Homo sapiens: one gene and its partner. The protein of the gene in region 1 purifies or fractionates together with the protein of each later gene. This does not show direct contact. Each region holds a gene or a part of one and is shown in the gene's direction. Other genes may lie near its edges.

Evidence for each region. The genes of interacting proteins can lie anywhere in the genome.
Region 2: the proteins of ICOS (region 1) and GAK purify together in Homo sapiens (co-immunoprecipitation; one study listed by IntAct). This does not show direct contact.

What each region holds. Positions count from the first base shown.
Region 1 is NC_000002.12:203,935,227-203,938,980, forward strand, and holds the start of ICOS (inducible T-cell costimulator precursor), read left to right. Parts: upstream 1-1,536; 5' UTR 1,537-1,588; coding exon 1,589-1,646; intron 1,647-1,674; exon of another isoform or gene 1,675-3,754. UniProt on the Homo sapiens protein: Stimulatory receptor expressed in activated or antigen-experienced T-cells that plays an important role in the immune response.
Region 2 is NC_000004.12:887,264-890,917, reverse strand, and holds part of GAK (cyclin-G-associated kinase), read left to right. Parts: intron 1-295; coding exon 296-386; intron 387-1,947; coding exon 1,948-2,071; intron 2,072-3,654. UniProt on the Homo sapiens protein: Associates with cyclin G and CDK5. Seems to act as an auxilin homolog that is involved in the uncoating of clathrin-coated vesicles by Hsc70 in non-neuronal cells. Expression oscillates slightly during the cell cycle, peaking at G1.

The sequences.
Region 1 (3,754 bases):
TGCTACGGGGAGTACAGTGAAAAGGGAGGAGATTGGGGTAGCAAGGTCCCAGGGGTCCTGGCAGCCCAGGCTCTACTTCTCAGGCTAGCTCAGTCCCTCAAACAGCTTCCTTCACACCCACTGCTGAGACCCAGGAGCCCTACAGAAGGTAGCTAGGGGAAGCTTCAGCAGCTAGGGGGATCCCTGCAGGATCAGCCTCCTCCTTACCTTGCAGACCCCTTGGCTGTGGTCTGGCATTCCTAGTGGCTGGCCTAAAGCCCCAAACCTGGAATCTGTTTCAGAGCCTGGACCTTTTGGACTCACACCTTGGTTTCCCTGGCCAGCTGATTTCAGCTTCTCATCTAAATGTCATTTCTGCAGGCTAAGGGAAGTCCAGCCTGGATCTAGCATCTTGGAAGCGCGTTCAGACTTCTGGATGGAGGGATCAGCAGGCCTTGGTATTGGTGGTTCTACCTGCTTCGGTTAAGAGTGAGGACTCTGGAGCCAGACTCTCTAAATCATAGCACTGACACTTACTATATGACTTGGGCCAGGTTCGTTACCTGTCTGTGCCTCAGTTTTCCTCATCTGTAAAATGGGAGATTAGTGGTCACCATTGGGATGATTAAGAAGATTAAATGAGTTAATGTATGTATAAACTATAGTTATAATGTAAATATATATACAAACAGTAACCATTTACATGCATATAAAACATAATATAAATGTAATATTAGCTATATTCATATATAAAAATAGGTATATTTTATATATAAAATATATTACATTTAATTTTTTACATTTTGCATTAAGATATATTATTTCATATAAAACATTTAAGTACATATACATATAATTATCTATGTAATTATTATTGTTATTGTTGTTATTGTCTACTTTACCTCCCTGCAGGGATGGGGAGACCACGGCAGGCTTTTAAACATTCTTGGTCTCACTGAGCCGTAGGTGAGGAATCCCTGGTTCCTACAGACTCTGCTGTAATATGAGGAGCAGGGTTTAAGTTAGTTTAAAACTGACCCCATCATTTGAAACATTGCAATCTACAATGAATGCCACATAAATATCATTTCTCAGATTCCTATGATGCTCTTCTTTCAGATCTTTTCACTTCAATTTCTATAATAATTTTGTTTGTTTCTTGTCCTATTTCAAAGGCTTTCTTATCTCTGGAGCACCTAGCATAAGATAGAAATGTGTCAAAATATATGTTTTATTCATCATGTGAGTATTTTTAGGTCCTGTTAACCCCCATAACTATTGATTCAGAGAAGTAGGGTGGTTCTGAAAAATACAGGCATAATCTCTTTAACTTGTTTTATAGGAACCAGAATAAGGGTAATGTTTTCCTCTGTCTTCAAAATCATCAATAATCCATGCATTGTTTAACTCATGTCATAAGCAATAATGCCTTTCATATAGCCATTGGCATCAAAGAAGAAACACCCCCTTGATTTGATGGTAAGCGTGACACTACATAAACTCCCAGAAAACCCACTTCCTTTCCAGCAAATAGAAAACAACCGAGAGCCTGAATTCACTGTCAGCTTTGAACACTGAACGCGAGGACTGTTAACTGTTTCTGGCAAACATGAAGTCAGGCCTCTGGTATTTCTTTCTCTTCTGCTTGCGCATTAAAGTTTTAACAGGTAAGTGGTGTATTGAATATTTCTTATTAAGTTATAATTCAAGTAAACATTAAGAAAAAGCAAAGGTAGAAAAATTACGCACCCAAAAGACAGTGGTTTTGGTTTTTGAAAGTAGGAATAGTTTCAGGATATGGCCAAGGGCACCATGTCACTCATGTCACTGTGGATGGCATTGAGTTTGCATTGCTGCCTTTGATACTGTGTCTTGAGATGAAAAACATGTTTCATCAGACCATTAAATTTTTAAATTACCTGCTTGGAGTTACCTGTCAGTGGATAAACTAGCAGAGTGGCTTACTGTTCTTAGAGAAAGATGAAAGGCAAAATGACTTGTGTCAACAGAATGAAAATTAAATAGCTCTGGCATTTGGACTGGGAATTCTTTCTGTGGTAGAAAATAAAATGGGAAGTCTTTGAAAAGAAGGATTTTGATTTTAATCTTACCTGGATGATCTGTTATCTGAAATGTCCAGGGCACCATAGAGTTTTTATTGACACTAAGTATCAGAGTTCACCCTAAAAAGCCAAGGAGGAAAGGATAATGTAAAAATACTTCCTAGCCCCTGTAGACCTTACAAAAAAGATCATTCTGGAGTCCCTGATTCCTTCTCTTGAATGGCATATAGCAGACTCTATATGGACAATTTAAATAATGCTACATACAATGTAAGTTAATACACGTGTTTCTGCTGCTTTTTACTGTATATAATTTGTACTACTTTTGTTTTCTCTTTCACACTGAGCCCTATTCTTGAGGTTGAAAAAAGGAAAGTTAAGTAATATTAAATAACTTAAATAATCAAATAAACTAAAAGTGAAGGCAGAACTTTTAGTAGGTATGATCCTATCTAGGGATACATTTTTTCAGTGGCAAAAAAATAGACCTTACTGTTCTTACAAAAAATGAAAAAAAAATGAAATCAAATTGATCAAATGTTTCATCTTGTGCTGGCTCAAAGTGAGTTAAGTGCAGTTAAGAGGATTGAGGAATGTAGAATGAGCACAAGGACAGTTTTGGGCTACTTGCTGGTTTATGCCTTTTCTAGAATCTCATGAAGTCCTTTAGCGGCATGAATGACATGAGCAGCTTTGGAATTTATATTCATTCTTCATTCATCCATTTACTCATGTAGCATTGAGCACCTGCCTGGTAGCAGGTACTGTGCCAGATGGTGTATGTACAAGGATGAGCAAAACCAGGTCAACCCCTGTTCTTTGGAAGGTAACTGCATGGTAGAGAGAGATATATTAATCAAATAATCCCATTGATTAATGATAATTACAGGCAAAACTCAATTATATGAGGGAATGTAACAAGGAGCTTGACTAGACTGGGTGGGTGTGGAGGTGTAGCTGAGGAGCAGGGTTCATTGAAGTCTTTCCTGTGCAAGTGGCACTTGAGCGGAGATTTCAAGGACAAGGTAGCAATCAATGGGGAGAACGGTATGAAGGTAGGGAAGAACGTTCCATACCATGGAAGGAACAAGTGCAAAGAGCCTGTGGCAGGAAGGAATGAGGTAAGGTTAGGGAACTAGAAGAAAGCAGACAGATGTGCCTGAGCACAAAGAGGGAAGAGGCTGAGCTTGGTCCAAGATGACCAACTGGTCCAAGTTGGTCCAAGGTGAGGCTGGAAAGGAAAGTAGAGGCCAGACCATTCAGACCATATAGTCTATGTTCCAGATTTTGGATATTCTTCCAAGAACGTTGGTACCATTCGTGGAAGGGTTTGTTTGTATTGATAAAAATCATTCAACTAGGCCAAACCAATTTGGGCAGTTCTGGTTGTGGTATTATGCTCAGGAGAATTAAAGTAGCATCGGTGTCAATTCTGTGGAAGGTGAGATCCAGCCTTAGGTAGGATTGTTTTAAGTTTCCAGATTAAGCTGACGAATAATTTGTATTCTGGAACAATATTCATCGTAGATTCTAAATGAATACAACCAATGTTCACTCTCATTATAAAGAAAGCCATGAGATGTGGCATGCTGTTTGGCATGTGGCAAACCTGAGGCACGAGTGGCTAAATGGTAACAATAAATCTGCTAGCAATGATCCTATTTAAAATATCTCCACAATGCATGTATCCAGAAACTGCCATGTAAAAGCTC
Region 2 (3,654 bases), on another chromosome or scaffold:
AAAAGGAAAAGGAACAGAAGCTGTAGCCCAAGAGTCTGAAAAGCTGGGCTGGAGTGCTGAGCACCTGCAACAGCCCCAAGCGAGGCAGGCCGCGGGGTGAGGGGATGAGGGCTGCGTGCGTTTGTTGAGTTCCAGCTGATGCTTCAGCCTGTGGGAAGTTCCTCCCTTGCACTGTGTCATAGATCAGGGGGCAGAAGGATGGGCTCTGAGGGCACCCATACCGTACCTCTGCCCGACGTGGGCAGGCGTGAGTTGTCAGTTTAGAGAACTGACCTCTGCATTTTCATTGTCACAGCTCCTGGAGCAGAATGGAGGCTACGGGAGCGCCACACTGTCCCGAGGGCCACCCCCTCCCGTGGGCCCCGCTGGCAGTGGCTACAGTGGAGGTGAGTGCCCTGTCCTGTGCCCGCCACCTGTCCCTCGCTCCTGCTGCACCCCGGGCACCCGCAGCACATTGGGATGGAGTCTGGGGTCCTTCTCTCCCGGGGCCTCCTCTCCCACCAGAGATGACTGTGAGGTCAGGGTCCCTGAGCACACCCTCAGGTTCGGCAGTTCCCTGGGGCTCACAGAGCTCAGCAAAGCTGGTGTCTTGGTGCAGTTCAGGAGGGGGTCAGGATTCGGACTAAAGCCAGCCAAGGGAAGAGGCTCCAGGGCAGGGCCCAGGAGACCGGGCCCGAGTGACCAGGCGGCCTCGCTCAGGGGTTATGTGGGAGGCAGCCTGCGCCGTGGCCAAGACCCCAGCATAGATCACATTGTCGTGTCTGGCACAGCCCAAGGCCCCAGGGAAACAGACACCCCTTTTGGGGCTGGAGGGGGCATCCCAGGTTCCTTCCCAGGAGCTGGGAATGAAGGGCCAGGCCTGCTGTGGGCAAGGTGAACCATTTACTACAGTAGCGACCCTGAGGCCAGGGGGCAGGAGCAGGCATTGGACAGTGGAGGGCGGTGGGGGAAGACAGTTCTGCCGCTAGTGTGAGGTGGCCCCTTCTGCCGCATGAGGAGTGGGCACCTGTGATGGGCCTGGGTGTCCCTGGAGGGCCCTCAGCTGGTGAGGAGTGGAGAGGGCCCTGGAGACAGACGCTGCATGCTCTTGGAACTCCGTGCCGGGAGTGTTCCAGAAGGTTCCGGGTGAGCCGTCGAGGACATGGCCCTGACAGGCAGCGGCTGGGTCTGCAGCTCTGCATGGCGCTGACCCCTCCCGACCTCGCCCCGCATCCCCACTGCGGTGTGGGAGGTTTCACCTGGGTCCTTCACCTCCGCTTCCCAGGGAGGAGCTCAGCTCCATGTCTGGGGCACCCCGGTCCGTGCAGTGTGGGTCCCACACATGCAGGTGTAGTGGCTGGCTGGGTCTCTGCTGGCTGGAGGAAGGGTGAGTCCTCGAGCTGCTGGGTTCTGCAGTGCCCCCATCTGCTCGGTGCTGCCTGGGCCTCGGTCTCCTGTCTGCATGAGGGACTTTGGCCAGGTGTTTTTTTTTTAACACCACTTGTGCCACCAAAGCCGCCTGTGAAGACCTCACTCGCAGGACCCACCAGGCCAGGGGCCACCACTCTGCCTTCACGTCCAGGGTCATGGTGGCCTGAAGCTGTGGCCGTGAGGCCGGACTATCCCCACAGACAGAGTCCCAGCCCCAGCTGTGCTGAGGCGGCCACATAGCCCTTCCGCACCCAGATTGACCATTTCCTGGGTCTCTGGAAAGGCTGAGGACAGGGTAGACCTGCCAGTGCTGAGGCCTGGCTTCCCGCTGGGTACGTGTGGGTCAGGGGCCTGGCCATACCACCCACTCCCTGCTCCTGCTGCCTGGGCCCAGCCAGCAACCTGCACCTGGGGAGGTGGGACCGAGCGCCTGGGGAGGTGGGACCGAGCGCCTGGGGCCTGGGCCCAGCCAGCAACCCGCACCTGGGGAGGTGGGACCGAGCACCTGGGGCCTGCTGAGACTGTGTCTCCCTGCAGGCCTGGCGCTGGCGGAGTACGACCAGCCGTATGGCGGCTTCCTGGACATTCTGCGGGGTGGGACAGAGCGGCTCTTCACCAACCTCAAGGACACCTCCTCCAAGGTCATCCAGTCCGTCGCTAAGTGAGTGTGAGGCTCCAGAGCCCTGGACCTGCCGCACGCTCGTTCCAGGCTGCAGCCCCGGCCCTTGCTTCCTGGCTGCGGTGGAACAGCTGGTCATCAGGCCCCACAGGGGCCCCTGAGGCAGTGGGACAGCATCACCCGCTTCTCCCAGGGAGTCGGAATGAGCCCAGCATCCCACAGAGCCAGGCAGATCCCTTTCCTTTCATCGCCTGGGGGGCAAGGCCCTGCTGAGGAGATGCCTGGGCCCTCCCCTCCCTTGCTGCAATGTCGCCCCTCACTCTGGGGCGTTCCTGGCTTGTTCCCGGGACTCTGTAAATTGGGTGAAACCTCGGTGGTGGCGCCTCACTGAGCCAGTCCTTGAGTTAAAGCCCTAGTTACTCAGACTTAGACCAGGTGAGTCCCAGCCTGTGGTGGGAGAAAGTCTCCCTCTGGGTGGGCTGTCCAAGGGCGCGTCTGTGCGGGGGTGGCCCCGACATCGGCCCACAGGCCCGGCAGCCTCTGCTCACGGAACACTGGGAATGTTCCAGAGTGCGGCCCCTCTGCGTTGCGGGGTCCATGCGCTGGCTCTTCTGAGGAGCTGAACGCCCAGGAGCACGCTGGCTGCTCATCTGGCCCTGCGGTCGCACCAGCTCAAGGGCGTCGGCTATGTCAGGAAACAGCCTAGGAGCTGGGCTGGACTGGTGCCCGTGATGCAGGAACTGCGGCCCCTGGTGGGCCCACGTTCCTTCCACAGCTGGCGACACCTTCGGGCTTTTTCTTATGTTTTTTGTTCTGTGCTGTGATCACTGTTTTGTGTCCCCAGCACCAGGTAGACGTGTGTGCACTTGTGCCTGCATGTACCGCAGCGTCTGCACATGTGAGCGTGGGTGCATGTGTCTTTGAGCATGTGTGCATGTGAGGGAATGGGTGTGTTAACATACATATGTGAACATGTGTGCATGTGTGTGTAAATGCTGGTGTGAGTATGTGCATAGGCGTGTGTGATTGCTGGTATGAGCATGTGTGCTGGTGCTTGTGAGTCCTTGTGCTTGTGAATCCTTGTGTGAGCTGAGTGCTCGTATTGTGTGCAGGCACGTGTATGAGCACATGTGCATGTTGGAGCATGTATGCGTGTGTGCATGTGTATGCATGTGTAGGAGTGCTTGTGAGTGCGCGTGAGCTGTGTGCATGTGTACACGTGTGCGAGTGCCTGTGAGTGCACGTGAACTGCATGCATGTGTACGCATGCGCGCGAGTGCCTGTATGAGCCGCGTGCATGTGTACGCATGAGTAGGAGTGCCTGTGAGTGTGCGTGAGCTGCGTGCATGTGTACACACGCATGCAAGTGTGTGTGAGCCACATGCATGTGTACGCATGCACACAAGTGCCTGTGTGCGTGAGCTGCGTGCATGTGTATGCATGTGTGCGAGTGCCTGTGAGTGCATGTGAGCCGCATGCATGTGTGCACATGCGCGCGAGTGCCTGTGCCTGAGCTGTGTGCACATGTATGCATGCGTAGGAGTGCCTGTGAGTGAGCATGAGCCGCGTGCATGTGTACACGTGTGAGTGCGCGTGAGCCGCGTGCATGTGTACACGTGAGTGCG